2 linked regions of the Homo sapiens genome follow. The protein of the gene in region 2 interacts with the protein of the main gene of each other region in a biochemical or structural test. Each region holds a gene or a part of one and is shown on either strand. Other genes may lie near its edges. The genes, in order: POLI and DHRS12.

What was found.
Region 1: the proteins of DHRS12 (region 2) and POLI form a complex in vitro, tested with the Homo sapiens proteins (one large-scale study listed by BioGRID).

Annotation. Positions count from the first base shown.
Region 1 is NC_000018.10:54,289,907-54,293,727, forward strand, and holds part of POLI (DNA polymerase iota isoform a (long)), read left to right. Parts: intron 1-1,926; coding exon 1,927-2,132; intron 2,133-3,742; coding exon 3,743-3,821. UniProt on the Homo sapiens protein: Error-prone DNA polymerase specifically involved in DNA repair. Plays an important role in translesion synthesis, where the normal high-fidelity DNA polymerases cannot proceed and DNA synthesis stalls. Favors Hoogsteen base-pairing in the active site.
Region 2 is NC_000013.11:51,802,039-51,805,959, reverse strand, and holds the start of DHRS12 (dehydrogenase/reductase SDR family member 12), read left to right. Parts: upstream 1-1,796; 5' UTR 1,797-1,850; coding exon of another isoform or gene 1,851-1,906; exon of another isoform or gene 1,907-2,124; intron 2,125-2,224; exon of another isoform or gene 2,225-2,417; intron 2,418-3,921. UniProt on the Homo sapiens protein: Putative oxidoreductase.

The sequences.
Region 1 (3,821 bases), on a different chromosome or scaffold from region 2:
CATAAGCATGGGCAAAGACCTCATGACTAAAACACCAAAAGCAATGGCAACAAAAGCCAAAATTGACAGATGGGACCTAATTAAACTAAAGAGCTTCTGCACAGCAAAAGAAACTATCAGCAGAGTGAACAGGCAACCTACAGAATGGGAGAAAATTTTTGCAATCTACCCATCTGACAAAGGGCTAATATCCAGAATCTACAAAGAAGTTAAACAAATTTACAAGAAAAAAGCAAACAACCCCATCAAAAAGTGGGCAAAGGATATGAACAGACACTTTTCAAAAGAAGACATTTATGCTGCCAACAGACATATGAAAAAATGCTCATCATTGCTGGTCATTAGAGAAATACAAATCAAAACCACAATGAGATACCAGCTCATGCCAGTTAGAATGGCGATCATTAAAAAGTCAGGAAACAACAGATGCTGGAGAGGATGTGGAGAAATAGGAACACTTTTACACTGTTGGTGGGAGTGTAAATTAGTTCAACCATTGTGGATGACAGTGTGGTGATTCCTCAAGGATCTAGAACTAGAAATACCATTTGACCCAGTGATCCCATTACTGGGTATATACCCAAAAGATTATAAATCATGCTACTATAAAGACACATGCACGCGTATGTTTATTGTGGCACTATTCACAATAGCAAAGACTTGGAACCAACCCAAATGTCCATCAGTAATAGACTGGATAAAGAAAACGTGTCACATATACATCATGGAATACTATGCAGCCATAAAAAAGGATGAGTTCATGTCCTTTGCAAGGACATGGATGAAGCTGGAAACCATCATTCTCAGCAAACTATCACCAGGATAGAAAACCACACACCACATGTTCTCACTCATAAGTGGGAGTTGAACAACGAGGACACATGGACACAGGGAGGAGAACATCACACACCGGGGCCTATCTGGATGGAGGGCTGAGGGAGGGATAGCATTAGGAGAAATACCTAATGTAAATGAAGAGTTGATAGGTGTAGCAAACTAACACGGTACATGTATACCTATGTAACAAATCTGCACATTGTGCACATGAACCCCAGAACTTAAAGTATAAAAGAAAAAAAATTAGGCCATTTTCAAGTTTTTCTTGAATTTTAATTTCTGCTAGGCCCTCTTTATCTCCCCATGATGTGCATGTAGCCCTTTCAGTAAGGAGTGTATGGGGAGCTTGGGCCCTCTGTGGCCTTCCATTTATTTGCATGTAGCCTCCTAGTCAACTAGGGTTGTACGGGGAGCCTATGTAGTCCCTCTTTGGTTCTCTCATTTCCAAATCTCCTGGTGACATATCTGGCTGGTCCACTGATCTGTCCTTCACCCGAACCACGACTGAAGCTTCAGACTAGCAGAGCTGTGGGATCTTCCCATTCGTTTCCTATCAAATTTGCTCATTTTACTGGCAACACTGCTGAGTGTGGGCTTTTGCCCACTGCCTCAAATCAGGTCTGTCCCCTCTGGAAGTGAAACTGCTGGCTTTTGCAGCCTTCACCCTGTACCAACTGAGCTATGTAAAGGGACATTCGAACAGTCCCAGACAGTGAAGCTGCTATCTCCTACTTTCTTAGCTAACATATAGCAGCTGTTCATAGATCAGTACTTCTCACTTTGTTTGCCTTTGGTTCATTTCCAGATTTCCACCAAAATGATTGTTTTTGACAATGTTGTTCAGTTTTATAGTAGCTTTTTGAGAGAGGATTTTCTGACCATATCAGTGTAGTATAACCAGAAATCCCATATTTCAAATCTTTTGAAAATTTTTAACCATTTAGTATTAATATTGAAATGTCTTAATTTGGTATATAATGTCAAGATGCCCAGTGATATTTAGGATTTTAATTTCTTAATCTCAGCAATATAAAATATATTATGCTCTTAATATTAATTATAATGTTTATTCTTAAACATTTTATTTAGGAAATTATGATGTGATGACCCCAATGGTTGATATACTTATGAAACTTTTTCGAAATATGGTGAATGTGAAGATGCCATTTCACCTTACCCTTCTAAGTGTGTGCTTCTGCAACCTTAAAGCACTAAATACTGCTAAGAAAGGGCTTATTGATTATTATTTAATGCCATCATTATCAACTACTTCACGCTCTGGCAAGCACAGTTTTGTAAGTACACTCTTTTTTGTTCAGTTTTCTAAGTATACTCTTATGGGATTTGTGTGGTTACATTACAAATCTAAGTGCTTGTCTTTTTGATATAGTTTAGAGATTCTTTTGGGTGATATTGTTTAGGTGATTAACTTGTTTATAATACCTATCTTATGGTTTCTGGCCTTAAATATGCTGTGATCTAAGAAGAAAACATAAGCATCACTGGATAAAAGAGAGAACCATTATGGAGGTTCTCTATTTTGGAATTGTTAACACATTTTATAGTATATAAAAATATGATGGATTAGCTCATAAGTATTAAAATATTTGCAGATATTAGAAATCACATCTTTTTGTCTTTTAGCTGACACATGAGCTACTAGTACCTTTCCCATGATTCTTTTGTTAAAGTATTTACATTTTCTTCATTTTGAAATAGTATTGAATTTTGATAGCAATATTGATAGATTTGACTACTGATTTCATAGTTGTAAAGTTAACAGTGTGGCAATAGAAAGGCAGAGGCCAGTCACATTTTCAGACGACTAAAACAAAACCCTTTTATTAATAGACAAACCACTATTTAGTAAATGTGGGTTGCCTTAAAAACAATTATTTTTTACTAAATTGTTCATGCCTATAATTAACTCAATTTAAAATACTTTTGTGTTTGTTTAGTCAGTATAATTTTAGTAACCTTTTCATTTTCATTTAAGTTTAAAGTGAGAACAGGATAGTGTATGGAAATAGTGAATTAATGCTCTCTTCAAATTACTTTTTTCTGTGACCCTTCTTATTCCATTTATTAAATTTAAAAAAGTGTTTTCTTTTTACATTTTAATTAATCTGTGAAATTGGAATTAAAAGTGCTCATTTATAGTGGCATTAGAAAAGTAAATATAAGTGAAAGTACCTTGTATGTATTTGTCACACAGTAGGTAGTCAATAAATATAAGGGCCTGAATCTTTTCTACTACTTTTACTTTTTTGGAGTTCATATTGTGTTGATGTTTACGGAGTTATATTTGACTATGTTTATATTTTTATGGTGCTTGAAACTAAAGGATTTAAATGAAAAACTGTATAGAAAAATTATGCAAGTTAGAGTTGAAAGTGTCTTTAAATTTTTATTTTATATAAATATAAACTAGTACTATATCTTGATGATGTTGGGTTTTGTTATAGGCTTTTTTTTTCTTTTTGTTAAAAGTTACCCTTTAGAATAGTAATTTTTGGAAAACTAGCCCTTGATGCTATATGTGTATGTTTTTTTGAAAAATACCCTTAGGTGAACTTGCTTTTCTAGGCCGCCATTCTTTTATTTATAGAATTGAAAGTTTGGTTGCATGATTGTTACAATCTTCCCAGGTCTCCAAATGCATATTTACCTCTGTCTCAGTGCTATCTAGGAAGGAAACCTCTTCCTGGAATAGTGGGTAGAGATTCACAAAATAGTGTGAATAATTGTGGTAGTAGATCTCTAGTTGTTTGGAACTGGCCACAAAGAGTTGTATTTGTTGAGTAGGTTAGAAACATGTCAGATAATAGCTACAGGCACACAGCAGCAGCAGCGATATTTAAAAGATATCAGATATGTAAATTAGTCTGTTATTCTTGTGTTCTAGAAAATGAAAGACACTCATATGGAAGATTTTCCCAAAGACAAAGAAACAAACCGGGATTTCCTACCAAGTGGAAGAATTG
Region 2 (3,921 bases):
CAGCTGACTCCAGTTAAACGGGAACATTCCCTTGTGAACTCCATACTGCCCTTTGTTTGTGTGTGTGTGTTACTTGGCATCCAGGTGAGAGTGGAAGCTCATTTTGAGACAGGGTTTGGCTTTTCCTAAGACCTCCTCTTTAAATGTATATAATGTATACACTAACTACCTCGTGGATGCTTGATTTGAGGCTAACACTGGACACCTCATGCCCTCATGGAAATTTCTTGAATGTACACTGCATGGCTGTAAGCGCAGGGGAAAAAGGAATGAGAAGAAAACTTAAGGAGGGAAACCAACACTTCTGATCACTTTGTATGAAACTAAGCTCTTTATAATGAATGCCTTTAATCACAACCACCCCACGAGGTGCGCATATTCATTCCCATTTTACATATTAAGAAACCAAGACTGAGGGTGTATGCAGCATGCTCAGGTTCACCTGGCTAATGCAGAGAGCTGGGTTTGCAGCCACACTTTTACTTCAAGGGGCTGCTGACACCCTCCAAGAGACTTGGTGGTTCAAAACTATTTCTCATCCCCTCTCTGCGAGCCAAAAGCCTATTTCCTGAGGTGTTCAGAGAGATTCAGAGCAGATTGACACCTTTTCCATCACTGACACAAAGAGGAGGGTATAAAAAACAGTATGTAGCCCTGGGGATCTAAAATATTTTCCCAGCCAAATCGGACAGGCATTGAAAGTCACACAGGCTGGGGTGGTTTTACAAAATGCCACTTGTTTAAATTTCCTTTCATCACTCTGTCAGGAATAACAGCAACGTAGTGGAGCCTCAGAGTCCTGTTGAGAGGGGCGAGCTGTTCCGGGGAAATTTATTTCAAAAGTTATTCTGAAGTAAAAACTTGCCCACTGTGGAGTGAGGTTGGACAGTGATCCTATATCCTAGGTAATGAGGCTATTAAAGCAGCTGGTCTCTTCAGCTTATGTAAGTGGGGCCCAGTCTCTGGGCGACTTGGGTAAACCGGTATAGAATTTAACAGGGTGACTAGGAGTGACAGCAGCAGTAAGACCCCCATTTCTAATGTGGCGTTAGGGCTGGAGGTTAGATGTGGACAGGGGTGTCTGAGTCCTACATAATGGGGCTGGATGACTAGTCTGAGATCTGGGTTCACGCAGCAACCACACTCTTTTTTACTCACACTGTTCATCTGGGCTTGGGTGGAAAGAGGCTGATGAGGATTTGGGGGAAATCAAGGGGCTCTCCCTGGCATTGCATGAAGTCGCAGAACCAGTGGCAAAAGTCCAACTTTGGAGACAATTACTTCTCGGGTGGGAGCCCCAGCCCTGCCTCTTGCCTGCGATGTCGCCAATCTGACTGCGCTTGCTGGAGACGGGAAATGTGGCACGGCACTGCATCCCCCAACACGTGTAGAAACTTAGAGAATGCCAGTTATTAAAATAACCCTTATGATAACACCAATTCGATGCAGAAGTCTTTTAAATATCATAAGCCTCGTCGTTTTATTCCACATGGTTTTCTAGGTAACCAAATTCTAGGAGGTGCGTTGCAGGGCCATCTTCGCATCCCGGCCATGCCCAGCAGGACGGTGTTCTCTAAACGGCGCTGATGCCCGATTTCGACCCCGAGGAGACTGCGGACCTCGACTGCGGCCCCCACCAGGGCCGGTCCGCCCTCACTCCACCCTCTGAGGCTGGGGCGGAGTCGACCGGCCGGCCCCGAGACCCCTTGCCTTACCGGTGGAGCAAGGAACCGGAAGCCGCGGCTCTTACATAACCGGGATGATGTCAGGGCGGGCGACTCCCGGGGGGCGGGACCAGGGCGGAGGCCGCGCCGGGAGCGCGGTGGGGCTAGGCGTGGGGCGCTCCCGGCATGTCCCTGTACCGCAGCGTCGTGTGGTTCGCCAAGGGGCTGCGCGAGTACACCAAGTAAGGCGGCGCGGCGGGGCGCGGGGCCCCGGGCTGTCACGTGGCCCGCCTCGGCGCGGGCGAGCAGGGTTGGCGGGGACGCGCCCGCGGCTCCTTCGCCCTCTCGCTGGGCCGACTAAGCGTGTCCAGAACGACGGGTGCGCCCGCCGTCTAGCGACCCACGGCTGGGCGTGGGGCAGTCGCCAGACTCCAGCCGCTCAATGCCCGCGACCGAGACTGGCGCCCGAGGGGCGGGGCTGTGGCGCGCCCAAGCCCAGGGCCGTCCCACTGACGTCAGGCGGCCCCGGCGCCAAGGAGCCTCTTGGGCGGCACCTCGGCGCCCCGCTGGGTGTGCTCGTGGAAGTGTCTTCGTGGTGCTGCTGGCGGCGTCAGATAGGGCTGGATCTAAATCGCTAGCTAAGGCTCTGTCCTAGTGCCTTTGGGTGTGTTTCCTTTAAAAAGATGCAGCACCTGGACTGCGACCTTTGGCTCCAGCTGGAACTTTCCAGCCAGTGTGTGCTTCTGGGGAACGGTGCGTGGTGGTTTCGTCGCCCCGTGACCACGCTCAGTGTGCCCTAGTTGGCTCTCCACCTCATTGTGGTTTTAAGAGGTGACAGGTTCCTGTGACGGAGGAGAGATGGAGGTTTTCTCTTAGAATTGATTAGGCTAACCGCTGGTTCTCAACCCTGTCTGCACATCAGAATCACTGGGCGAGAATTAAAAGTACCCAGTTTTCAGGCCCCATCCCTACAGATTCTGATTTAGTGGATCTGCACAGGGGCCTGGACTGGCATTTCATCCAAATGCCCCAGGTGATTCTCACCTCTGAGAGGCTTCTCCCTGCACTGGGGCTTTATCAGTTCCCACGGCAACCTGGCCAGCACTCCTAGGGGAGGTAGGAGTTGCAACTCCCTGCTCTTCACCCCACATCGTTTTGGAGAAGGTTCAGCTCTGTCTCAGGAGCCCCTGCTGCAGAGAATGGTGGGGAGTGTAGTCGTGAGCCCTGTCCCACAGTTTTTAGGGGAATACAGTGGCAGCCTCTTTCTTTCAAAGGGGTGTCCTCTGGCAATGACCATTAATTGCTGGATCTTTCCACATTACACAGCATGAAAGCTTAAGTCAGTTTCCAACCAGGGGTGGGCCCCAAGGAAAGCAGACTGTAAAAATTTCTCCCAGGACTCTTTCGCTCTGATTTCCCCACCTTGAGGGAAGGTAGAAGTGAGGCCAAGGGGCCCAATCCACCACAGATTGGTGGGGGAAGGGAGGGGAGGGGAAGGCAGTTGGCAAAGTTAGATGGGTTTTCCTGCTGTTGTGGATTTAGTGAATAGGAGAGAAAAACAACAACCTTGTTTTGACTTCAGTGTGAGAGCGCGGAGTTAGAGTTTACAACGTTTCTCTTGGCACAAGGATTTTTATAAAGCCTCCCTATATTGGGCTCCTAAGGCAGGAGGATCTAATCACTGTTTCCTAAACTTTGCTGAACCTAATAATTCCCTGGGGCAGTTTTAAACAGACTCCTAAACCCTGGGCAAGTGTGGATGGGTCCTAAGCAAATTTCATATTTGGGTAAATTGAGGGTGTGGGGAGACACAGATACCTGCCAGCTTCCTCCTCCCCATCCCTGTCACCTCAGCTTCAGGAAACAGTAAGTACAAATGTCCTCTCAGCTTGAGTCAAAATCACTGGCAAGGCACATGAAACCACAGGTTGCCAAGCAATCACTTCTGAGTCAGTAGGCAGGGCATTTCCAACAGGTTTCCAGATGATGCTGATGCAGCTTGTCTGGGGACTGCCCTTTGGCACCGAGGCTGGGTGTTGAAGAAGATCACCTACCTTCTGGTGACCTTGGGAAAGTCGTGTGTGTGTGTGTGTGTGTGTGTGTGTGTGTGTGTGTGTGTGTGTGTGAAAAATAGAGACTGATATCTAGAGACTGATTTCTAGAGTGAAAATAAAATGCTTCCCCAATAAGGGGCAGAGTACATAAAAGACAAGTCTTATTAACAACAGATCGGACCAGGATGGAATTCTTGTATGGA